7 linked regions of the Homo sapiens genome follow. The protein of the gene in region 1 interacts with the protein of each later gene in a pairwise test. Each region holds a gene or a part of one and is shown in the gene's direction. Other genes may lie near its edges.

What was found.
Region 2: the proteins of SMAD9 (region 1) and ASB2 interact in a two-hybrid assay, tested with the Homo sapiens proteins (one large-scale study listed by BioGRID and IntAct).
Region 3: the proteins of SMAD9 (region 1) and TRIP12 interact in a two-hybrid assay, tested with the Homo sapiens proteins (one large-scale study listed by BioGRID and IntAct).
Region 4: the proteins of SMAD9 (region 1) and MTMR10 interact in a two-hybrid assay, tested with the Homo sapiens proteins (one large-scale study listed by BioGRID and IntAct).
Region 5: the proteins of SMAD9 (region 1) and ZEB2 interact in a two-hybrid assay, tested with the Homo sapiens proteins (one large-scale study listed by BioGRID and IntAct).
Region 6: the proteins of SMAD9 (region 1) and PPP2R5E interact in a two-hybrid assay, tested with the Homo sapiens proteins (one large-scale study listed by BioGRID and IntAct).
Region 7: the proteins of SMAD9 (region 1) and DIAPH3 interact in a two-hybrid assay, tested with the Homo sapiens proteins (one large-scale study listed by BioGRID and IntAct).

Annotation. Positions count from the first base shown.
Region 1 is NC_000013.11:36,850,739-36,854,238, reverse strand, and holds part of SMAD9 (mothers against decapentaplegic homolog 9), read left to right. Parts: intron 1-563; coding exon 564-820; intron 821-1,721; coding exon of another isoform or gene 1,722-1,901; exon of another isoform or gene 1,902-3,500. UniProt on the Homo sapiens protein: Transcriptional modulator activated by BMP (bone morphogenetic proteins) type 1 receptor kinase. SMAD9 is a receptor-regulated SMAD (R-SMAD).
Region 2 is NC_000014.9:93,970,071-93,973,570, reverse strand, and holds part of ASB2 (ankyrin repeat and SOCS box protein 2), read left to right. Parts: intron 1-3,500. UniProt on the Homo sapiens protein: Substrate-recognition component of a SCF-like ECS (Elongin-Cullin-SOCS-box protein) E3 ubiquitin-protein ligase complex which mediates the ubiquitination and subsequent proteasomal degradation of target proteins.
Region 3 is NC_000002.12:229,912,010-229,915,509, reverse strand, and holds part of TRIP12 (E3 ubiquitin-protein ligase TRIP12), read left to right. Parts: intron 1-3,500. UniProt on the Homo sapiens protein: E3 ubiquitin-protein ligase involved in ubiquitin fusion degradation (UFD) pathway and regulation of DNA repair.
Region 4 is NC_000015.10:30,988,829-30,993,051, reverse strand, and holds the start of MTMR10 (myotubularin-related protein 10), read left to right. Parts: upstream 1-1,423; 5' UTR 1,424-1,545; coding exon 1,546-1,605; intron 1,606-2,214; coding exon 2,215-2,275; intron 2,276-4,223.
Region 5 is NC_000002.12:144,426,120-144,429,619, reverse strand, and holds part of ZEB2 (zinc finger E-box-binding homeobox 2), read left to right. Parts: intron 1-3,500. UniProt on the Homo sapiens protein: Transcriptional inhibitor that binds to DNA sequence 5'-CACCT-3' in different promoters. Represses transcription of E-cadherin. Represses expression of MEOX2.
Region 6 is NC_000014.9:63,382,878-63,386,377, reverse strand, and holds part of PPP2R5E (serine/threonine-protein phosphatase 2A 56 kDa regulatory subunit epsilon isoform), read left to right. Parts: intron 1-1,806; coding exon 1,807-1,934; intron 1,935-3,500. UniProt on the Homo sapiens protein: The B regulatory subunit might modulate substrate selectivity and catalytic activity, and might also direct the localization of the catalytic enzyme to a particular subcellular compartment.
Region 7 is NC_000013.11:59,968,429-59,971,928, reverse strand, and holds part of DIAPH3 (protein diaphanous homolog 3), read left to right. Parts: intron 1-768; coding exon 769-1,077; intron 1,078-1,870; coding exon 1,871-1,985; intron 1,986-3,500. UniProt on the Homo sapiens protein: Actin nucleation and elongation factor required for the assembly of F-actin structures, such as actin cables and stress fibers. Required for cytokinesis, stress fiber formation and transcriptional activation of the serum response factor.

The DNA of each region.
Region 1 (3,500 bases):
ACTGACTGGTTCTTGGGAGTGATTGTTAACATGGGTTGCAATCCACTTTTATTTTTTTATTTTTATTTATTTATTTTTTTGAGATGACATCTTGCTCTGTCACCCAGGCTGGAGTTCAGTGGCGCTACCTTGGCTCACTGCAACCTCTGCCTCCCAGGTTCAAGCAATTCTCCTGCCTGAGCCTCCCGAGTAGCTGGGATTACAGGTGCCCACCACCATGCCTGGTTAATTTTTGTATTTTTAGTAGAGAAGGGGTTTCACTGTGTTGGCCAGGCTAGTCTTGAACTCCCGACCTCAAATGATCTGCCCACGTCGGGCTTCCAAAGTGCTGGGATTACAGGCGTGAGCCACCGCACCCAGCTGCGATCCACTTTTAAATGGATTTGTGGAAAAAGCACAGATTATCATTAAACTAAGCGGCATTTAGGTCACACATCTCATTCATCTGATCAGTGATCTGACAACCTGATGGGAGAGTCACATCTCCTAGGGTTTCAGGAATCAGTGGGAGAGGCACGCTATGAAAGGGCATGTGAAGGAAGGCTGTGTTTTTGTGTCTGCAGGTGTGCACTTGTACTACGTCGGGGGAGAGGTGTATGCCGAGTGCGTGAGTGACAGCAGCATCTTTGTGCAGAGCCGGAACTGCAACTATCAACACGGCTTCCACCCAGCTACCGTCTGCAAGATCCCCAGCGGCTGCAGCCTCAAGGTCTTCAACAACCAGCTCTTCGCTCAGCTCCTGGCCCAGTCAGTTCACCACGGCTTTGAAGTCGTGTATGAACTGACCAAGATGTGTACTATCCGGATGAGTTTTGTTAAGGTAAGGAGTGCTTGCTATCACGTTATAAAATGTTCAGTGAAAAACAAAACAAAAAAGCACCCTGACTGATGTGGCAGGCAGTTGTGCGGTCAATTCTGATAGACAAAACCAATTTATTATTATTATTATTTTTTGAGACGGAGTTTCACTCTGTCACACAGGCTGGAGTGCAGTGGCATGATCTTGGCTCACTGCAACCTCTGCCTCCCGGGTTCAAGCGATTTTCCTACCTCAGCCTCCCGGGTAGCTGGGACTACAGGCACGCACCACCACGCTTGGCTGATTTCTGTATTTTTAGTAGAGACAGGGTTTCACCATATTGGCCAGAGTGGTCTTGAACTCCTGACCTTGTGATCCTCCCATCTTGGCCTCCCAAAGTGCTGGGATTACAGGCGTGAGCCACCGCGCCCAGCCCAAAACCAATTTTTTTGAATTCTATTGTTTTTAGGAGGAGTTCCTCTTTGAGTATAAACTGTCTTGTTTAGCAATTATATGAAAATTGTTACACATTACTTTTGAGGAAAAACAAGGTGGCTATTTGATTGTTTTTAATGCAGATGATAAAGTAACAACAGTAATTTTACAGGACTAGTGCAACAGAGATTTTTTCCATCCTTCCAATTGCCAAGCACTGTTATCACTCAGTGAATGTTGGTGAATTTATCTGAATTCAGTAAGATACTCTCCTTACTCTTAGAAAGCATACAGGCACATGGAGGAGATAATATTTATGAATAAGCTACAAAAATAGGCAGGGTTGGTTCTAATACAAGATAATAAACTAAGTAGTGTTATAAAGGTATAAACAATTTGGAATAGAAACGGGTGTGATTAATTCAGAGAGCAGTATATGTTCTGTTGATGAATATTTGTTGAATTTCTCATATCGAATCTTATTAAGGTTGCTATGAAGGCTGGAGAACCAAGGAAGTTTCTTAGTGGGAAGGAAAGACAACTGGGTTTGTATATGGAAGTGAAAGCCTTCAGTTTCATCACCTGCTATTTTGTCTGTTGCAAAGTACTCGCAAATGAGTCTAGTATTTCAAAATATGGGCTTATCAAAGTATCGGGGTATGTGTGACAGTTTTCTTACTGCCATGATTCCATCCAGGGAATCAGCATGGCTTGTTCCAGGCATTTTTTTCAAAGTAAATTTTATTAGCACTTTAAAATTACCATGACAAATAATTTTTCTATACTCAAATTATGTTTTTATTATCACTTTAGTAATTATTTAAAAAGTAAGAACAATATAGTTTCCAATTTTAAAAAACAGCTGCTTGAAATTATTTCTCTTTCATGGTGACAAAGCAGTTTCATTCAAATTTAGTGTTTTGAAAGCATATATTATAAAGTTATATTAACAAATAACTTCGAAATCTTTTCAAATGTTCTGTTGCTTTAGAAACGGCAGAGGGCATCATTTGAATCATACAGTTTTTTTTTTTTCCGGGTCTGTGTTTTTAAAATTAGGATGAAATGCCAATATCTCATAGGTAATTATTTCACTCTGATTAAATATAAGCTTATATAGAAATCTGATTTTCCTAATAACTAGATACATTTCTCAGATAGGCAGCATTTACATTCATAAAGCTACACAATTGACACAGAAGACAAACTGTTCCTAATACTGCAGGAACTTTTAAAATAAATACATAGTAAATATAACTATAGATCATTTTTTTTTAACATTTGAGATGAGCAGCTGTAGCTACCACTGGGCTGATGGATCAGATCTCTTTAAGGTTTCTTTCAGCTCTGATTTTTACTGATTCTAGGACTTAGTCAGTCAACAAATGTTTATTGAGCACCTGCCATGTGCAGGCCAGGCACGTGGGACATGCCAATGTTTACTCACAGATCTCTGACCTCAGGGAACCAATATTCTAGGAAGGAGAGATGGATAATAAACAACAGCCAAAACACAGAAGAAGGATGGAAAGAGAAAGTCTGGGGGCAGGGTGAAGGGAATTGGAGCACGGGGGCAGTGGAGTCATCTGCACATGAGGGTGGGCCTCATTGAAAAGGTGACAGGTCAGCAGAGACTGGAAGGAGACATGGAGCTAGGCCCAGGGACCCCTGGAGGAAGAGCAGAAGAAGAGGGAAGAGCAAGGCAACAGCATACACCTGGAAACTCTGAAGAGCAGGCAGGCCAGTGTGGCTGGGGCCTAATGAGCAGGGGAAGTGAGATGAGAGCAGCCGCAGGGAACCATAGCAAGGCCTCCTGAACCTCTGCTACGAGTTCAGCGGTGACTGTAAGGAGGTGGCGAGCTTTTGCAGGGATCAGAGCAGAGCATTTTCATGATCTAACTTCTATTCTTAAAGGATCGCCCTGCCTGCTGTGTGGAGGATAGATATTATACAGGCAAGGTTGCAAGTAGGGAAACCACTTAGGAGGCTATAGTAATAGTCAGGTGAGAGTCGCCCCCACCTGGAGGGATCCAGTACAGCTGTGAGAAGTGGAAGGATTCTGAATTGTGAAGGCGGATCAGGCGTGGGAGAAAAAGAGGAAGATGAAGTTAGTTGCCTTCAATCAAGATGGAGAAGACGCAGGTGTAATTGAGATGTCCGTTGCATTCAAGTGGAGTTGCTGAGTAGCCAGTTCGATATAAGAGTCTGGATTCGGGGAGAGAGGTTTGGGCTTGAAATACAAATTTGGGAATTGTCTGCAAAGGGA
Region 2 (3,500 bases), on another chromosome or scaffold:
TGTGGGTGCTTTTCTTAGCTGGTGGTGTGGGCACTGCCGCAGGTAGTGGGCATGTCCTGTGCAGAATGGATGCTCATCATTGCAACAGGGCACTTTCCACATTCAAAAAACCTTCTACAGGGAGGTTTTTCCTGTGTTTTTCCTTCTTCCCTCTCTTCCTCTCACCATCATTCTTGCTCTCTTTTTGGAGTGGCATCCTCAATGTACATCAATAAGTAAATAAATTACCAAGACTTTTCGTTAGGGTCTTAGACTCTTCGGGAGAGATTCACCAAGATTTGGATCAGCAAGAGGCGCTCCATTTCAGATGCAGCCTCAGTCTCCTCCTCTATACAATGGGCACAGAGTGTCTGCTGGCGTGGGAGCAGAGCCAGCTTTGGACAGGTTCAAATCCCTGGTTGTCACCTCCTACAGGGTTATGTAGGGGCAGTCACACCCCTACTCCATACAAAGAGAAGAGCCCTGTCTTGTGGAGTCAGCTGGGGCCTGCAGCCCTGAGCACACCTCTTGAGTCACCTCCAGCAGCCCCAGCCCAGCCTTGGAAGCCCCAAGGCCCTGGCACCCGAAAGCCGGGAGCTTGAAATCAGCATCAAAAGGTCTGAGATGACGCAGCCGGTGGTGGTGGTGGCTGGGGGTAAACTGGAAGCTTGGCCTTTGTGGGTGCTTTCCTTAGCTGATGGTGTGGGTCTGAGCAAAGGCTCAAACTCCTAGCAGCTGTGAGGCCCTAGACACCAGGCCCCAGGGCAGCCAGAGGCTTGAGAGCACTGCCCCCATGGCCAAAGGCCCACCCTGGCTACGACTTGGCCACTCATAGGGGTCAAGGGCAAGGTGGCTGGGATTCCATCCCCCCTTCCTTACCAAGGTCAGAGCATTTCTTAGCCAGAGCAGAGATGAAGCCTCCAGAGGGATGAGGTTTAGGGTCACGGAGCAACTGACTCCTTGCCATGCCCTTAATGTTGTGTCAGAGGGCCTGATGAAGACGGCGCAGGCTGACGTGGTCTCAACCTCTGTACCACATACATTCCAGGCCTTAGTCTCCTCATCCGCGCCATGGGAAGACCACTCTTCTCCCTAGTACTGAAAAAGTAAAATGAGGCAACCTATGAAAGTGGCCTGGATGGAGACAGGACAAGGACCCACAGGCACCAGCTTAATTTTTATTGATTAGGTTCTAAAACAACAGGACCCGGGAAGGGAAGAGAACAATGTCCTACACCTCCGAGCACTCCAGCTGGAAGCGTTTCCTTGGGTTTCCTAGGACCACCCTGGATCCTGGGGGGAAAGGCAGATCAGAAAGATAAGTTTTGGCAGAAGGAGAGAGCATTGCAAGGAAGGAGGTCGAGCGCCCTGGGTGCCAAGGAACAGCCCAGTTCCTGACTCCTCGTGTGTCCCCAGGCTAGCCCAAGCAGCCAGGTTTCAGGATTGCCTTAGCTACGGGTCATGTGATATTTGGGAGACCTTGAAGCTTTTGGAGTAGATTTATAGAAAGTATGTATATGTGTGTATATTATATATATAATATATATTATATTATTAATATAAAAATATATAATTACCTATTATATACTTATATGTTATATGTTATTATGTGTGTATATTATATAATATATATAATACATGTAGCGTGTATGTAGTGTTTTTGAATATGAACACACATACACACACACACATAGTCTTCAGTTTGATTCTGGCCTTCACTCAAATCTTGAAAAACATCCGGTGGTTGCTATTCATTGTGTGGGATGAATACTTGGTGTAAAATCAGATGTAGCCTCTAGTCTCTTCCTTGTCACTTTTTCCCTTAGTGTGCCTCAGTCTCCTCATCTATAGAATAGGAACTATAATACGCTTATAGATTTATTATGTGGTTCAAACTAAAGACAAATATGAGAGAGAAATTCACTGCAAGGGAAGGTGTTATGGTTATGATTCTCCCCATACCTGCTGCAGTGGGACGTAGTGACCTGAGGGTGACACATGGATCTGAACCACAGGCTTTGCATAAGAGCTAAACCTAAAAGGTACAAGTGAACCCTAACCAAAATACTCATGCAGCACTTGCTCTGTGTTCAGCACCATTAAATGAATTACGTGCTCACTAAATGGCTGCTCTTGTCATTTGTTGGCAGTCACCTCGTGCAGAAATTCAAGCCTCCAAAGTCTAGGGCAGCAGATGATGTGAGCAGAGAGGGCAGGGGGACAGGAGGGTTCCTGGAGAGTGGGGAATTTGAAAGGAGTGTGCAGAATCCATCCTGCACCCAAGCTGGCTTCGGGGGAGGGCGTGGAGATCCCCTTCCTCCCCAAGCTCCAGCCCCATGATTGACCCTTGGGACCACCCGGCAGGCTCTGCGCACAGCCCGGGGAGCTGACAGTCACAGCGGCAGTTTTGACCACAGCTGTCACGCGAAGGCTGGGCTTGGGGCTCATTTTCACTTTCACTCTCAATCTTGTTAAATGGAGGAGAGCTTGTGGGAATTCAAATCCCTTGGATGGAGCCTCCTAGAGAACCGCCAGCTGGGCACGAGTTTCAGGTAGCATCCTCCCAGCAGGAACAGGTTTAGGCTGTTTCACCCACTTTCTGGGATCACGGCAGAGAATCGCAGCATCTTGGGACCTGTGGAATAACACGAGCAGATTTTTAGGGGCCACCGGCTGTGTGCCAGGTGCTCCACATTTATACCTGTCACCTAATTTCACCTGACAACACCTCCACAGGCAGGATGCCATTAATATCTTCATTTTATAGATGAGCAAAGTGAGGCACCGAGTAACCTGCTTCACATCACGTGGCCAGGAGGTGGCAGAGCTAGGGTTGAGTATAGGCAGTGGGGCACTCGGGCCGTGCCACCGTCTACCACTGTGCAGTAAACTTCTCCATAACAGCTGTGCTTCCAAGGGCTTGAAGCACTGTCATGATCCTATCGTTCATTCACCCGTCTGTCCAGCATTTATTCAATACCTATTGTGTACCTGACTTTGGGTTAGTTCCTGGGGTTACAACATGAGTGCGACATAGTCCTGCTCCTCAGAAGTTTCTAGACTTTCTAGAGAGACAGGACCATAGCAGGCAGTCCAAGCAGTAGAATGTGAAGGGGGCCCTTGGAGGCAGCAGAGGACTCTCAGCCATCAGGGAGGCTTCCTGGTAGAGGAGATGCTGGAGCTGTTTCTGGAAGGGCACCTTCAGGGCAGGGTAGGCTGACGAGCAGCTCCATCCACAAACACAGCCAAGGATGCTAAGTGGCTTGTGCAGCCTCACATGTCCGACCCAAGTCCCTGGCATGACCCAAGCCTCTGGTGGAGCTTGGTGTGGTGGAGGATGGCTGCCAGCCTCCTTCTTGGCCCCGCCTTCCCAGCTGTGTCTCCTCTAGCCCCCAGTTTTCTGCTAAGACATCTGGAGAGTGACCACCTCCCACCCCAGCCCCTCAAACAACCACATAGACCCACCCCATCCACCGCCAGTTCCCGGGCAGACCCTGGCTGTCTGCAAACCTGGGTTGGTA
Region 3 (3,500 bases), on another chromosome or scaffold:
AAATAAGATACTGTAAGTGGAAATATTTTGTAATGGCTTAATGTCCTATTTTTAAAATTTTGATTCTTATTTTGCATCGTTAATGCTAAAATGACTTTGAGACTTTTAGTCAGTATATATTTTGGAGACTGCAAGTTACTTTAAATCATACATTTTAAAAAGAATTAGGGCAAGCCATTTTGTTACTCTTTAATTGACCATTATGTGCATGTAATAGTTGATAAAGTACATTGAGGACCTAAATAAGTTTTTTTTTTGAGATTGAGTTTCGCTGTGTTGTCCAGATTGGAGTGCAGTGGCGCAATCTTGGCTCACTTGTAACCTCTGCCTCCCGGGTTCAAGCAATCCTCCTGCCTCAGCCTCCCGAGTAGCCGGGATACAGGTGCCTGCCACCACACCCAGCTAATTTTTTGTATTTTTAGTAGAGACAGGTTTCACTCTGTTGGCCAGGCTGGTCTTGAACTCCTGACCTCACGTGATACACCCGCCTTGGTCTCCCAAAGTGCTGGTATTACAAGAATGAACCACTGTGCCTGGCCAATATGTTTTAATGCAGTGCTAAATGATTAGTGTTTCCAATTTATAATAGTATACATCATTGTAGTTTATTCTGTTTGTTTCTTTTTAGAGAGCATGTACATATTTCTATAAATATGGTGTTATTACCCATACATGGATTTTTGAAGGCTATTTATAAGCCTAAGTGTCCATCAACAAGCCTTCAAGACTTGAAGTTACAGCATTTCAGTGTGTATTTTAATCAACTTGTTGGCTGTCATAACCAATGAGTTCTACCCTGACTTCAAAACTCCTACTCACTCTAGCCGTGGGCAGTGCTCTGAATAAATAGATGTACCTTGTGCTGTGTTCTTAAGGTCAGATGAACTTAATTTAAAGATTTTATACTGGTAAACATGTGCGATGCCCTGGAAACCTAAAGTGAGTTTTCACAGTAGCCCATCTCTTGAAATTCTCTCTTCAGTTGTAATTTAAGCTACTTTGTGTCCTTAGAGAGCAGGTTCATAGAGATCATATGAATGTCCCCTACTTTTTTTGATTCTCAAAAACCAAGTGCTTCTAGTAGCCTTGTAAATAGGAAATATATGCAAATGCTGTCAACTTCTCAGACCCCAGTGTTTCGTAATTCTGTTTTACATCCTTGGCTGCAATCAGATTGAACTGTTTCTTCCTCTCTGAACACACCCAGCAACTTTTTAGCATTTTTGCTTTGGTTTTTTGTCTACTTGAATTGACACCCCCTCTCACATCTTGTATCTATTATTTTTATTATTATTTTTATTTTTTGAGGCAGAGTTTTGCTTTGCCGCCCAGGCTGGAGTGCAGTGGTGCGATCCCGACTCACTGCAGCCTCCACCTCCACCTCCTTGGTTCAAGCGATTCCCTGCCTCAGCCTCCTGAGTAGCTGGGATTGTAGACTGGTCTCCAACTCCTGACCTCAGGCAATCCACCCACCTCGGCTTCCCAAAGTGCTGGGATTACAAGTGTGAGCCACCGCGCCTGGCCTGTATCTCTTAGAAATATATATACTTACACTTAACTTTCTTCCAGTGACTCCTTTAAAATTTTTACTCCTTACTCTCCTATTCTCCTTCTGTAACATATTTCAGGATGACTTTCACGTTCTGTCTTACATAATTAGTTGTTTACATTTTAACTTAACTGGGTTTTTGGCCTCTTCAAGGTAGAGATCTCATTCTTTTATCTTCACAGTGTCTAGCACAAGGCTTCCAACATAATGCATTGTACATGGTAGGTGTACGTGGTAGTGTGTTCTGGTGTGACACATTGAGAAACGATGTTGTGAAATAATATTAGCATCGTTTGCCATAATTTACTTGCTTGTTTTCATTTTTCAGGGGTTGGCAGCTGAGTGTAGAATATAAATTTTTCAAAATTAGGCTCATTAAAATCAGCTACTTAAGGAATTGTTAAGACCCTAGAATATTTTAGTTAGTTGGTTACCCCAAATTTAGCATTTGGAGATGATGTTTATTAGTAGATGATGATTTATTTATCAATACATATTTATCAAGTGCTTACTGTGTGCCACAATTGTGCTTGACAGAATATAAAAGGGACCTGAAACTTATTCCTTGTCTTCCAAGTTCTGTTATGTTTCATATAGTTGATATTTATCTTATTCCATCACAGCTTATTTGTCTAAAACTGTATATAGGAGTATAGTATTTAGCATAGAGAAATATTCTGTAAAATTCTAAATGTAGATTTTCTGCATTTAGAAAATCTGATATTAGAATGTAAATTAAGAAACATGAATTAGGGCATGATTTGTGGCTATACTAAATAAATTGTTGAAGCATCTTCATTTACAAATATTCAGCCAGGTGCTGTGGCTCATGCCTGTAATTCCAACCCCTAGGGAGGCTGAGGCAGGAGGATGATTTGAGCCCAGGAGTTCAGGACCAACCTAGGCAACACAGCAAGACATCATCTCTACTAAAAATAAAAAATTAGCCTGATGTGGTGGTGCATGCCTGTAGCCCCAGCTACTTGGGAGGATTGCTTGAACCCAGGAAGTTGAGGCTGCAGTGCGTCATGCCACTGCACTCCAGTCTAGGCCACAGAGTGAGACTCTGTCTCAAAAAACAAAAACAAATACTCATCAGCAGCTAATGTGAGTGCATATCTGGTTCCATACAAGATCTGCCCTCTTAGAGGGTGCTGAAAAAGAAGAGATTTATAAAAGGAGATTCCTTATCTTGAAATGTACTTTGTTGTAGATGAGTTGAAACTTACGACTACAGCACACAACATCTAACATTGTGCATATTTGTTATTAAGTACAAGATCGAGTTTTATACAGTGGGTACTTGGAAGTTTAGAGAGGTTCAGTTCTGGGTTGAAGTTACTTAGGAAGACTATGAAGAGAGAGGGGCTTAAACTGGCCCTGATTGTTTGGAGGAAGATATAGAAGAATGGGGAGCTTAAAGGTGTAATTGTGGTGAGGATCTAATATTAAGGTAAATGGGCTCTCTGGAGTAGAGGGTCCATATATATGAAATAACAGGAAATTGGGCTGAGATTATTGAAGTTCTTAAATGGGAGATCACGGAATTAGATTTAACAGATTATGTTGAATGATTGTTGATCCCTGAATAGGTGATGTGAAAAAGGTGTACAAAAATATTTATGAATGAACTGAAAACAAAAATAAAAGTGCTTTTAGATGTCATTTTTTATGACAGTGCTTCCCTTTCTGATACTACATATAAAAGTTTTTGTATTAAGTTTTGGAGGAGATAGAAGTAGTGAAGGTAAAACTTCTTGTTTTTTCCTGTTGTTTAAAATGTTAAATAAGCAGAAGCTGGTTTATTGTCTAAATGACCCACACCAGTCCTCTGTTGGACACAGAAGTCTTCCTTTAGTGGAAGCTATCAGTCATTTTGTCTCAGCACATTCAACTGTTGTTTGTTCAGATTTTTTGTAATTCAAAATACTTTTTGATACCTAATGCATGA
Region 4 (4,223 bases), on another chromosome or scaffold:
AATACAACCAGATATCTGGGAAATGCCATAAAATTTAGTGTTAAGACAATAATAAATCTGGAAATAGAGTTTTTCCACTTTTCAGTTGTATGGTCACATATTAGAATTGCAGATCCTAAGAAAACCTGTACAGAAAAACCCAAATCACAGAGTCATTTAAGTGTAAAGAAAAAGCCAATTATTGCTTAAAGAGTATTTGTAGAAAATATCCGTTGAATATAGAGGAATAACAGCATATTCATAAAAATTTTTTAAAAAGTGTGCACGACAGTGATTTTAACACTTCTAATCCAATGGAACTAACATTTTAAAGTACAATTATGGCCAGGCACGGTGCCTCATGCCCATAGTCCCGGCTACTTGAGAGGCTAAGGCACGTGGATCACTTGAGCCCAGGAGGTGGAGGCAGCAGTGAGCCCTGATCATGCCACTGCACTTCAGCCCAGGTGATGGTGTGAGACCCTGACTCTAAAAAATACAATTATGGTTACGGTTCTTGGGCAGAGTGGAATTCAAACAGGTTAACCTGAAAGATCAGTAGGGTTCTAAATCCAGGATAAATTATTTTCAGAAAAAGAATAACTTTTTGAATCTTTATTTAAATTGTTAAATGTTCCTGTGAGTAACACTCATCAGCGTGATTGTGACTGGTATGGCTGCATGGAAGCTTCCCTGTGGCATTAATCATAAAATGCTGGATTGGGGTTTGATTCTTCAAGGTATAAGAAGGACCTAGTCTCAAGTAATAGATTCACCAAAATGTAACACCACTAGCCCCCTCCCACCAAAATCTGCTCCAGTCAGAATTACCGTAAGAGCTCAGAAGTGACCTGTGCTTGGCGGCACCGGCCCACTTTCCCAGTGCCGGTTCCTCGCATCCTGGGCGCAGACGGGGTGACCGCCTGACCCCTGGACCCGAGTCACCTTTCCCTGCCCTGAGCTCCTCCTTGAGAGCTTCAAAACAATGCTCGCCCAGGCCGGAGGGCGAAGTCGGCCCATGTGTAAGTCAAGGGAACTGTCCCAGGACTGCAGCCCGGCCAGAAGACGCCCCGCGCCGCCGTCCCAGGCAGCCACCGCTGCCGCCGTGGCCCCCGCAGGCCGCCGTAGGCCCCCGCGGGCCGCCTGACCCCTGCGGGCCGCCGTAGAAGGACCCTCCAGAGGCCGCGCTCTTGAGATGGCCGTCGGGCTCCGCTCCCCGCGGCGCCCCGGCTGAGGGCCCGCCAGCGGGCACCTGGCGCCACCGCTGCGTTCCGGCACTAGCACGGGACACGGTCAGGGAGCGGCGGGCCGCGGCCTTGCGCGCGCCGTCTCTCGGGGCGGGGCACCGGGCCCCTTCCGGGGATGGGCCCCGGCGCCCGCGTCGGCCTGGCTGTGCCCGGCCCCTCCCCGCTCGGGCGGGCGCTGCGCCGTATCCCCGCCCGTCAGTCCGCCCGGCTCGGCTGGCCGCAGAAAGGGCCTGGGCGGCCGCACTGAGAGCTTTACGCCCGGAGGCGTCGGCGCTGCCACTGGCCCGCGACGGGAACGGGGCGAAAAGGCGGCGGCACCATGTTCTCCCTCAAGCCGCCCAAACCCACCTTCAGGTCCTACCTCCTGCCACCGCCCCAGGTAAACAACCCCTCCCCGCGAGCGCCCGACTCTCCTCTGCGCTTCCGTGGAGCCTCCAGGCCGACCCCCGGGAACTGGAGGACCCCAGGAGGCTGCGCGCGTCTCCCTGCCCACAGCAGCGCGGCTGCCTGATTCCCGGCGCCGCGAAATGCGCCTTCTCGGGAGCCCCCACTGGCTCGGCGAAAACTTGTAAAACTCTTCTGCAGCCATTCTCTGCCCGAAGTTCTGTCGTCCGTAGTTTTGCGGAGTGTTGAGGCCCAGGGGAGCCTTGGGAGCTGGGGTTTTCTTTAGTTTCCAACCCATCGACCCTCCCTCGTATGACCGCCAGCATGATTGCAGCGCTTGGGGTCACTGGTCGAGGCGGTTACCCGTCTGTCATAAATGTGAACACCTGGAAGCGACACTGGCAGTTTAAACATTTTTTATTATTAGGCTTCCAAGTCGATAATGAGCAGATCTTAAAAACAGCTCAGTTAATATGCGAAAGAATTTAAATGGGGGGCTGTGTGTCTTTCGCATGTGTCATCACTTAGAAAACAACATTTGCTGTAGCATTTTACGGAGGGTGGGGGGATTGAGATTTTGATTTATTTTGCTAATGTATTTCAGACTGACGATAAGATCAATTCGGAACCGAAGATTAAAAAACTGGAGCCAGTCCTTTTGCCAGGTAAACATTAGTTAGGATTCTAACAGATACTTTAGCAACGTATTTTGGTTTAAGATTATTCTGCCGACTAGTATCATGTGGTTAACTTCCCTTCTCTCATTAAACTTTCTCCAGTTAAAAGTCTAGTGACTGAGAGGAGAAAAAGGAACTGTCAAGAATGTCATTACCTCATTTCCTTTTTTGTCTCCCGAATTTCTTTTTGAAAAGATGTATATGTTTAATTGCTTGGGTAGTAAAAGTACTCTTTGCTGACGTGTTTGCCACTTATTGCATTAATGATTAATCATTTTAATGCATTTTGATAGTATAAAAAGACGCCTTTATTATGTGTGTGTCTCTATACCAATAACAGAGCTTAGTGAACTTTGAATTACTTGCTTGGCAATTGTTTTTTGAAGTTGTCAGCTGTATTTGCAAATTTGCTTGTTTCAGTTTAGAACCAGGCTTTTCCCAGCAGAGACACTTAATTGACATTTGGGGCCAGATAATTCATAGTTGGACGGGCAGGCTGTCCTGTGTATAGCAACAAAGATGGCCTCCACCCACTAGATGCCAGTAGTAGTACCCTTATCCCCCACCACCTAGTTGCGACCTAGTTGCCACACCAAAATGCCACCAGTCATTGCCAATTTTTTTTTGTCCCCTACCTCTGGGGGACAAAAATCTCACAGTTGAGAATCACTGCTTTAGAACAAAATTTGCTATAGGTGACCTTAGAGATGGAAGTAGGGATTGGTGGTAGAAAGGGGTTTGTTTTAGAGCATACAGAATATTGGTATGGTATTTTGAATTGTATAACAATTGTATAATAATTAGGAAAAGTCAGTTGTTTAATGCGATTATTAGGGGAAGTAGCCAGATACTTAGGAAAGCCTGTTTTAAACCTGAAATCGGCCGGGCACGGTGGCTCATGCCTGTAATCCCAGCACTTTGGGAGGCCGAGGCGGGTGGATCACGTGGTCAAGAGACCGAGACCATCCTGGCTAACACGGTGAAACCCCATCTCTACTAAAAATACAAAAAAAAATTAGCCAGGCATGGTGGCGGGCGCCTGTAGTCCCAGCTACTCGGGAGGCTGAGGCAGGAGAATGGCATGAACTCGGGAGGCGGAGCTTGCAGTGAGCCGAGATCCTGCCACTGCAGTCCAGCCTGGGCGGCAGAGTGAGACACCGTCTCAAAAAAAAAAAAAACCTGAAATCAAATACTAGTTTGTGTGGCTACTATCAGCATTGCAAAATCTGACTCATTACTTAAAGCCAAATCGGTAAAATAATTAGAATTTTGTAGGTAAAAATTGAACAAATGTGGAAACTTTAAAATTTTAAATATTATATAGGGACAAAATATTAAAAACACCAAACTTTGGTTCCATATGAAAGTTTAAAAAGTGTTTTTTAAACTTTACTATGGGAGTCATAAATATTTTCCCTTGATTTTGTTAGTGCTTTTCACTCAACAGTGTGTACTAATTAATCATTTGTACTTTTCCTCAGAGTGAACAGTAGAATTACTAAGTAACCCTTGCTCCCTGTGTGCTCTGTTTTAGTCTTAGTCACTCTGAGCATTTAAAATGCAGGGACGAGGAAACAGTACTCATCTTGAATGAGTGCCTATGAGCTATTGAACTTTGACTTCGTTTACTCTGAACAGGCCTGGTTCTTAGGCTTTGATTCCTCCACTCTGCATACTATGATTTCACACTCAGAAACAACATGGTCTTAGCTGTAAATGTCAGTGCTTGCTTTTTAATTTTTTAAAATTTTTTTTAAATTTTTTTTTTTTTTTTTTTGAGACAGAGTCTCACTCTTACTTGGGCTGGAGTGCAGTGGCGTGATCTCGGCTCACTGCAACCTCTGCCTCCCAGGTTCAAGCGATTCTCCTGCCTCTGTCTCCCAAGTAGCTGGGATTACAGGAGCCCACCACCACACCTGGCTAATTTTTCGTATTT
Region 5 (3,500 bases), on another chromosome or scaffold:
GATTATGAAGTGATAGTAATGTTATCACATTGCGGCAGTTACATCTTAGGAAGGGATTATATTTCAGTTTTGATGCAAGTCAAACATGAACCACACTTTCAACACATAACATGAGGTATTTGCACCACATTTACAATGTGCAAATTATGTAACATGATCAAGATCTATACTTTCATGATAGGAAATGGAAGCAAATGTAAAAACTCACAACATATATATGTATATAAAAATATTTTGTGTGGAAATTATGTAGCATTTCAAACCAAATAACTGTCAGTTTAATGTAGCTTCAGTGTCTGTCTGACACCTCCTATTGGAATTCAATCGTTTAATGATTCCCTTTTGTTAAGTGTGAATGTGATTTCACACTTTTACCTGGTCAGGTAGCTTTCTTATTATTTATCAGCTAAGTACTTGATAATGATTCCTGCTGTTTGGTGGGACTCTCAAGGGAAGTAAAAATGGTCCCAGGCCAACTATAATAAAACTAAGGTAAATTATATTCAAACTAAAACTTCCGACAACACTGTGCAAACGGGAAATGTCTTGGTCTAAAATTCACTTATGACGGAGAATCGCTAAGGTATGAAATGTTTAACAAAATACAAGAAATCTTATTCCTGTGAACTTTCTCTGCTCATCTTTACATGGTAAAGTGGCCTGGAAAATTTGTTTAAATGACCTCTCTAATTCAGACCTCATGTCACCTTCATCTCTATTCCCAGGACCCACTGAGAGTTATCATTGTTTACCCCACCTTGTTTTTTCTTTGACAACATAAGCAACAAAAGCATTTTTATAAATAGGTGAAGTGGCTGGGAAGGAGTCTACCTATATGCTGTTGTGATGTCGCAGACTATAAACCATCAAACATAGGCAGAATAATTGTTTGGTATACTGGAAGGAGGATAATAAAAGCACTTCCACTACGAAAGAAAATTAAATGTGAGATGAAAGAAAAAGAAAAAAGACTGATGGCAATTTGAGTACAGTGTATTTGTTTTTCGTTTTCCTAACATACTGTGCCAAGTTTTCTACTCTTTCCGTTTCCAATTTTGCTTTCGGTGAAGGTTTCTCGAATCTCAGCAATCCCACACATAAACATTTATCGTTATATCCATTAAGCCTTAAGGTTTTAGATTTTCAACTATGAGGGAGAACTCAGCCAAAGATGCTTGAAAGATAAATACGTTTAATTAGGGGCAGAGGATGATCATTAAAGGAAGTCTGACTGCTGCAGAAGTCATTAACAATCTTAAATGAAATTTTTATTTTTATGATAGCCATTTACATGTATAATAAGAGCCAATGATTCTTGGGAGCAGTGTGACAGAAACAGAGTGTGGCGAGAACTCATGTAAGACATACTATTTAAATGAGCTGGTGTTAGCTATTCATATTTGTTAATGAACTAGATATGCAGGGCTATAAGAATGAATGTTCTGATGCTTTAAATTTTAATATCTAGAAATCAAGGGTAAGGACCAATTACTAGAATTTCCACCCTTAGAAGAATAATTAATAACAATGTAACAAATGTACAGCCCCAAACCTCTTTTAAAAAAGTTTAATTTAAAAAATTTAATATCAATAGTTGAAAAACAGCCAAACAGCAATGTCAAGCTGTAGTAGTTTGTGATTGTGGCAGCTTTTTGTGTTGGTCATGGATCATAATTCTAAACGTTTTAATATACAGTAATCCATATGAATGCATTGCAGACCCTGTTATCACCTGTAGTTAATGGTGCCTGTGATACAAGTGAACAGGCTGTTCTTTGCTCTTACCTTTATGGTAAATAAACCAGCATTCTGGAGTCACAATAATTAAATAAAATGTAAATCCCTAATCTCATTTGGCTATTTGGACCAAGAAACTTACCCGGCTATTACCTGTCTAGTTCTAATGATTACTAATGATTTATTGTTCTTTTTTTTTATTGTTCTAAAAGTGCTCTGATGTGGTGCCTTGATGTCTAATGAAAAGAAATTGGTCTTAAAAAGCTACTCATTGTTTATCCTGACTCTGAGATAACACATTTTTCTTCTGATAAAATATTTTTCTTATTTATTGTTCAAAACACACAATATAGACAATAACTCTAATTCTGGTGCAGTTTTATTTAGTAGTGTTTTATCCCCGGTGCCTGGCTGTCTACAGTCATACCTCAGCACATAGCTTTACTCTGAGATAAGCCCTCTCTCCTTTGCTCTTTCTCCCATGCTTTCTGGAGTTTGTCTGCAGGATGCAGGTTTTGAACTGAAGAGCGCAGTGGAGTTCTTACTGTGCCTTTCCGGTTCCAGCACAATCAAAGTTTTGTGTTTGGAATTGTCCTTGACATTCTTTCGTCCCACAATGGGGTGGACACAGTGTGCTGGAAACCATGACATCATTATCATTGACACAGACTTAAATAAATCACCTGCATCTTGGCCTCTTTCTGCTTATTCAAGGATTCTTCATCTTAAGGAAGAAAGTGCTCTTTATTTTTACAAATCTTCATCCCAGGGGTGACTGGAAGACGCAAACTTTTACAAGTGTTTTAAAAATAAATATACTATGTGGTTTTAGACACAGTATGCTGAGTCAGAGGTGTCTTAGAGAATGTTTAAGGTTAGACATAAGGCAGAAAGACAGCCAGATTGCCTTTAATTCGGAGGCAATATTCCTAAACTGTGTATCATTATGTCCTTCTGAATATGGATTCACTTGAAACTTAATTAAATAGGCATATACATAACATTTCAAATACATACCTGAAAAGGCTTAGTAGTGTTTCATTTTCACACATTGAGCTTGATATTCAAAAAAGAAAAAGATTGATGCTCAGTGAATCAAAGCAAAGTACTTTCTAGGTAAAAGTGACACCATCTCATCCAATGTCTCTGAAAGATCTCAGTTGCACAGTCTTTGGATAAAAAGGGTTATAACTAAATAATACTACAAAATGCAATTTACACAATGTGCTGACTACACATTTGTATACCCAGCATTTATTAATTTGGGAAGCAACCAACTACTGTAACTTCTCTTTACTTTTTCATAAGAAAATGACAATGAGGAAGGAAGTGCAGCAGAAATCTTGAACATTACCACTATTATGCAAAAAAAAAAAAAATGCTGTTAACTGTTTTCCCCTCAGTGACTTGATGTGCTCTCAGATGGAAAACTTATGATTCTTGTGACTCTTGGCTACCCGAAATCACATGAGATGAGCAAGGAAGAAAGACACAAAAGCTATATTTATATCTAGCCCTGAACTTCTCAGAAATACCTTAATATGATTCCTTGCAGAGACTGATAAAAATATCAGATGAGGGAGACTTTCAAATGATCAATGATTACAATTGACAATACAATATTGCTATATATTAAACTTCTAAATGTTTAATGTAAAATGTCTCTCTGAAAATATTTTTTAAATAAAGGAAAATTCCTTGCTCAGGAATGAATTTAAGTGGTTGTACAGCTTAAACAAATATCATTCAAATTATCTGATTAT
Region 6 (3,500 bases), on another chromosome or scaffold:
AGTCTCAGATTCTTCATCCACAAAATAGAAAAGTAATGGTACCAACTCTGTTGGTTGTGAGGAAATGAGATATTATATATGTGGGACACTTAGCACAGTGCCTGGCATATAGTGAACATGCAGTAATGATTGTTTTCTTTGTACTCTCAGGGTCTGGTGCCTAATGAGTCTCAGGGTTTTGTTTTGTTTTTTGAACCAAGCTGAATAATGTAAATGGAAAAATTCTGTTTTCTCAGTGTCTTTCGGTAGATACATCTTATACCATTTTGTTCTCTTCTAAAACAGGGCTTCTTAATCTGTATAAATGAAGGAAGCCACCCCTTTTTCCCTTTTCCCCTGTAACTACCCTTTTTAGAGATTTTAGGTTTTGTTTTTGAGATGTTCTTTTGAATTCATGAAATCCAAGATGAGCCAATCAGGCCCAGCAGACCAAATTAGAGCCAGTTGATAGCATGGTGGGCAGAGAAAAGGGATCTAAGAGAGCAGAGAGGGTAGGTGCAGCCAGTGTCCCTGAGACCAGAAACTGAGCAGACATCTCCTGGCTTGCACAGGAAGGGACCAGAAACAAACTCTGGAAGAAGCCCTAGAAATGAGGCCCCAGTCTTTACCATATTGTCAGTGTAACCTTGCCTACATTACTCAGTCTCCCTGAGTCTCTGTGTCCTCACCTGTAAAATGAGCACAATGGTATCTCCTTCTGGGATGGTGGTAAGGATGATACATTCTACTTGCTGTGTAGGCACAGTGCCTGCCCATAGGAGGTACTTAGTAAATATTGGCCGCTCTACAGGGATGAGCAACTGTGGGTGTTCCTCAGTAGCTGTGACTGAATGCTAACCATATGCTGGGCCCTGGGTTCGATCTAAGTGTGTGTGATGAAAAACATAAGAAAGGGGACCAGTGAGATGTGCTAAAGTGATGTCAGGAAAGTGTGGAATCAGATGACATGGGCAGAATTAGAGAAGAATATAAATTAACAGGAAAACTTCTTTTCCTTCCCTGAGTCGATGAACCACTTGAACCACTCTGGACTTTTTTTTTGGTGGGAGGAGAAGACACGGTCTTGCTCTGTCACCCAAGCTGGAGTTCAGTGGCATGATCTCCACTCACTGCAACCTCCGCCTCCCAGGCTCAAGCAGTCCTCCCACCTCAGCCTCCCAAGTAGGTGGGACTATAGGCACATGCCACCAATCCCGGCTAATTTTTGTGTTTTTGTAGAGGCGAGGTCTCCCCATGTTGCCCAGGCTGGTCTCAGACTCTTGGGCTCAAGTGATCTGCCTGCCTTGGCCTCCCAAAGTGCTGGGATTACAGGTGTGAGCCACCGTGCCTGGCCCACTTTGGAATTTTCCAAGAGATTAAAAATCCACAAACATTTAAAATGTGGGCCAGGCACGGTGGTTCACGCCTGTAATCCCAACACTTTTGGGAGGCTGAGGTGGGCGGATCACGAGGTCAGGAGATCGAGACCATCCTGGCCAATGTGGTGAAACCCCGCCTCTACTAAAAATACAAACATTAGCTAGGCATAGTGGCATGTGCCTGTAATCCCAGTTACTCGGGAGGCTGAGGCAGGAGAATCGCTTGAACCCGAGAGGCGGAGGTTGCAGAGAGCCGAGATCGCGCCACTAGCGAGACTCCCATCTCAAAAAATATATATATATTAAAATGTGATTAATATTTAATTTTACCTCTAATTGAATGATTTACAAATAGCCTTTTGAAATACTTTTGTTTGGAAAGATTTATAATTTTGTTTTATCTTTGTCTTTTTCTCTCTCTTAACATTTTATTTTTCTTTTCCCAAAGGTGGCAGAAAGAGCACTCTATTATTGGAATAATGAATACATCATGAGTTTGATAGAAGAAAACTCTAACGTCATCCTTCCCATCATGTTTTCCAGCCTTTATAGGATTTCAAAAGAACATTGGAATCCGTAGGTTTTCAGTTTCTTTCCTCCGTTCTCTTCCTCCCTTCCTCTCTTTCTTTCCCTTCAGCCTTATTATGTGCCAGATGCTGTCCTTGTTGCTGAAGACGTATGTGAAAAGATAAAATCCTTACCTTCTGGGGATTCACTGACTGGAGAAAATAAACAGATACTTTAACAAAATACCGGTTAAAGTATCTGTTTACTAGACAGGCTTCTTGATCTGTCTATGAAGGTAGCAGATCTTTTGGGGAGGCACTGCAGCTGAGAGGAGAGGTGTGTAGATACTGACAGCATGGCCATGCTTAGACTGAATCTGAAAGGAATTTGGCAGGTGGATGGCATGGGGAGAGCCCTTTCAGACAGTGGGTCCATCCATCATGTTAAAAGGCACAAAGATGTAAAAAGCAGCTGTCAGTTTCTGAGACCTGTGAGTTTGGGAGGGCTGAGGCACAAGGTCTTTTGGGGAGGGTGCTAGAGGATGTGGCTAGAAAAGACTGTGGGACTCGTGTGAGCCTTCACCAAGTAGATGATGAGGAAGTACTGAAGGGTTGTTAAGTGGGGAAGTGGTCTGACTAGGTTTTCATTTTAGTGTGATCTATTTAACAGCCAACTCAGTCGCTATATGTATCTCTTGGAAAGGAAGGAGTTTAAAATCATCAAGGGAAGTTTAACATCCAGCCCTATGAAAGTTAAAGCATTCTGAATTTGAATGCCTTTACATTTTTCTCTGTGGAATAGAAGGAAAATTTAATGTGGTATTTAAAAATTGGGAGATACAATTCAGTATATTCATAATATGTTTATCTTTAAAAATTTTGCATGTAATTATAAAATATCACATTTCTAATTTTTCAAATTTGCCTAATTATATTAATAGAACTTGTAAAAATAAGGAGCTGATAAACAGTTAAGTCCCTTTATACAGATAGTCTCTTGAGGACCTAGAGAACGGTTCTAGCAAGTGTCTGTAACTACTCAGTATACTACATTTGGTGCTTTCCCATCACTGCCCTTGGGAGGAAGGTCATTCTGGAACCTTAACAGAAAAGAACTTAAATTTTCCTTTTAATGGCACAAGGCAGAAGCTACACAGCAAGTGTACTTTCTTGTAAATGTTTTGGAAACATCAGACTCATGGTTTATTTAATATATGGCTAATTTTTACCAATGCATTTTTCAGTGGTATTAGGAGCATGTTTGTTGCAAAACGGAAGCAACGGATATTTTTGCAAAAGGAAAAGCTATTTAGACTCTAGTCTGAAGCTATCAAGCCCATCATAACCTTGTCCTCACATTGCCCAAGAGCTAATTCTTGTTAAGTATGGGCTACCATTTTGGCTGTTTAGCTGTATAGTGTCCCATAGCTAATAGCAACCATCCCAGCTTGCCAGTTATCAGCATATATTTTGGGTCAGCAGGACTGGTGCAGATCAGAGCTAGACAGATAATTCATATTGAACCACCCAACCTACATGAGGGCTTGATTTCATTTCTTTGGATAAGAATAATTTATATATATACACATATATATATAACATTTGTTTCTAGGGAAGTAGCTTCTGATTTTGATGA
Region 7 (3,500 bases), about 23 Mb from region 1:
AGGCTTTCCCAAGGAAGGGACCTGTTAGCTCAGACTGAAGAGGCTAGTAGGAGATGGTCAGGTGAAGAGAATGTTCCAGGCAGAGGGACCAGCATGTACAAGGGCCCTGAAATTAGCATGAGGTTGGCACATACACAGAATTAGAAGAAAGTCCCCTACAAGACCAGATAGCAGGGACTAGATCATGATATACTTATATAGGTCCTACGAAGAATTTTAGTTTGTTGTTGTTGTTGTTTTCTCAAGTGCATTAGGACACCATTGAGAAGATTTGAGCAAAGTCATGATGTGGCAATACCATTTAAGTTCTTTTGTTGAAATCTTATTTCTTACTTATCACTTAAATGCTTGCACTCCATAGAACTCTGTGCATAGACCCTTTGTCATGCTACATATTCTCTCCATACTATGAGTGAACTTCTCTGCTTCCCTGGCTTCAACTGTTCTCCAGAGACTACTGATTTTCAAATCTTCTAGATCCACATACCCATTTCCCTCCTGGACATTTCTACCTAGATGGTCATAACTACCTCAAAACAGGGAATTATACTTCTGGCAATTATGTTTTTATGAGGGAAAAAAAGCTATAATTATATTCTTAAATTAGAAGAAAAATTGTTGGAATTTTGATTTTTGGTTAAACCTTATGAAATTACTGATATGTAATTATTTTTGGTTTAAATGAATGCCTTATTTTTGAGTAAAGTGCATATTTACATGTTTTGTAGATATGTTCTTAGTTATGTCTCTTATTGTTTTTTTCTCCAGTTTGGTGCCTTGCCAGCTGATTGTAATATTCCTTTGCCTCCCTCTAAAGAAGGTGGAACTGGCCACTCAGCACTTCCTCCTCCGCCTCCACTGCCTTCTGGTGGAGGGGTGCCGCCTCCACCTCCTCCCCCACCACCTCCTCCACTTCCAGGAATGCGGATGCCATTCAGTGGTCCTGTGCCTCCACCACCTCCCCTGGGATTCCTTGGAGGACAAAATTCTCCTCCTCTACCAATCCTGCCATTTGGGTTGAAACCAAAGAAAGAATTTAAACCTGAAATCAGCATGAGAAGATTGAATTGGTTAAAGGTAAAAGAAATTAATAGAGGAAAATACTTTTACTTAGATCTAAATCTAATTTTGGATTTATATATACATAATTTCTAATGAGATTTAATTTATGCCTACATAATTTAATTTATATATACATAATTTCTAATGTCACTAATCAAAGTGACAATAAAATAGCTTTTTTTTTAAAGTATTGGGACAAATCCCTTTCATATTGACTAAGACTTTCTGCTTTATAAATACAGTGAGAGTTGATGTTGTTCCAGTGGAATCCGATTTGTAATTAAATTGATAATTAAACATTATTGCAGTGAATCCTATGTTTATGAAGTGTTTCTCAAAAAAAAATGATGGTGTTCTTAGGAAATTTTCTCTATTGATAGATGTTGGGAAAGTGTTAACTAGTTGTCAGAAGCTAATATCTAGTCAGATCTTAAGAATTCAGAATCCTGCAGAAAAATGGTTTCATGGTAACAGAAACATGGAAAATGCTGTATAATGTGTCCTGCCCACCAAAATGTATAGTGCAGGTGAAGATTATTAGAGACTATGAGAAATGCAATTGAGAAGAAGCTAATTAAATCGTATTTCAAATCCTCAACTATTGGATCATGGAAGCCTTTTCTTCCTAATAAGACCTTAACATCCTGCAGAACTTGTATCTTATTGAACACACTTCAGGGAAAAATCTTACAGATACGACTTTATAAATATCTGCTGACAGCTATGATACTCAGTGTATGCATAGTGCTTGACTTGGGACAGGTGAAACACTCACCTATTGATGAATCAGTCTTCTCTCTGATTGTAGATCAGACCTCATGAAATGACTGAAAACTGTTTCTGGATAAAAGTAAATGAAAATAAGTATGAAAACGTGGATTTGCTTTGTAAACTTGAGAATACATTTTGTTGCCAACAAAAAGGTAAGTTTAACATCTTGATTATTTATTAATTTGATTTTAGAATTTTAACATATACTTTTTATGTATCAATTTTCAGAAAACATTATTTTATGAATCCTGTACATGTTATTTTTACATTCCTAATGGGCAAATAAATGGTATAATGAAATAAAGTGCTTAAAAAGTAAATTCTGTTTTAAAAATGCAAAAGGTTAATATAAAATTTTGATTATTAAATTTTCTATATGATATTATTTTTGAAGATATTCCATTGGGATAAATTAGACTTTTGTAAAAGAGGATATTTTCTGTGACAGTTTTGGCATGAGAAGGTCCTTCAGTTTGAAAAATAGAAAAACAAAATGTGTGCTTTCTTGTAGTTAGAATTTTACTACCCTTTAATATTACAGTGACTAGGGGAGCTAGGAGAGGGATAGCATATAGCATTAGGAGAAATACCCAACGTAGATGACGGGTTGATGGGTGCAGCAAACCACCATGGCATGTGTATACCTATGTAACAAACCTGCATGTTCTGCACATGTATCCCAGAACTTAAAGTATAATCCAAAAAAAATTACAGTGACTATCACATAATTTAATTAATTGCTATGAGTCACATGGGATAAAAATATCAGATTTATAATGTCTTCAAAGTTAGCTTGAAAGAGAAGTATCTGAGTAGGTTATATGATCTTTTCATTAAAAGCAATGGCATTCATTTTCCAAAATGTTTTGTGATAGGTTTTACCTGTGCAGTGTGATTTTTAAAAAATTGTTTAGGTATTACATAAGTGAAAATTGAACTTATTTCATCCAATTTCGTGGGCCTGCTACTTACATTTCAAGGCTGATATCCACACAGAATTTTTAAGTATTATATAAAACTTACATTTTAGGTCTGTAGTGCAAAACACTTAGATCAATCATTACCTTTTAATTTTCAAAAAGAAATTTTTCACTATAGACTTATGCCACCTATATCCCTGGGCTCATAGAACAAAGGAAGAGGTGGCAGGGAGAGATTGTACTGGATGGATACAGGTCAGAGACCTTTGTGTAGAGGGTTGAGTTGACTTCCTAAATGTTGACTGTTAGCCAGGCACCATGCTAGATGCTTTATGTATCTGTTTAACTTGAGCACAGCAGCCAAAGAATGCTGGCAGATATTTTAAAAATGTATTAGTATTCCTTTGAATGAGTTTCTGAAAGATTAGAATCTCTTTCTAAAAGGTAATTGTAAATTAAGAAATTATTAATGTAAATTAGAAACTCTCTCCAAAAGGTAATTGTAAATTAAGGTAGTTTTCTAGAATTTGATAAAAACAGTTAACAGATATTTTTGAGTACCATTTATCCTGACTAAAGTATTAAAAATGGTATATTTTTGGTCTTTGAACACAGGGAGAATTTTCTCAGCAAGCTCACCCTAGTAAATTTGTGAATAAGATTTTAATTTTACCTTTTGATTATGGAGGATCAAAATTTTCTTCAAATAAGATTAGTGTACTCTTCTGGCAATCAAGGAAAATACAT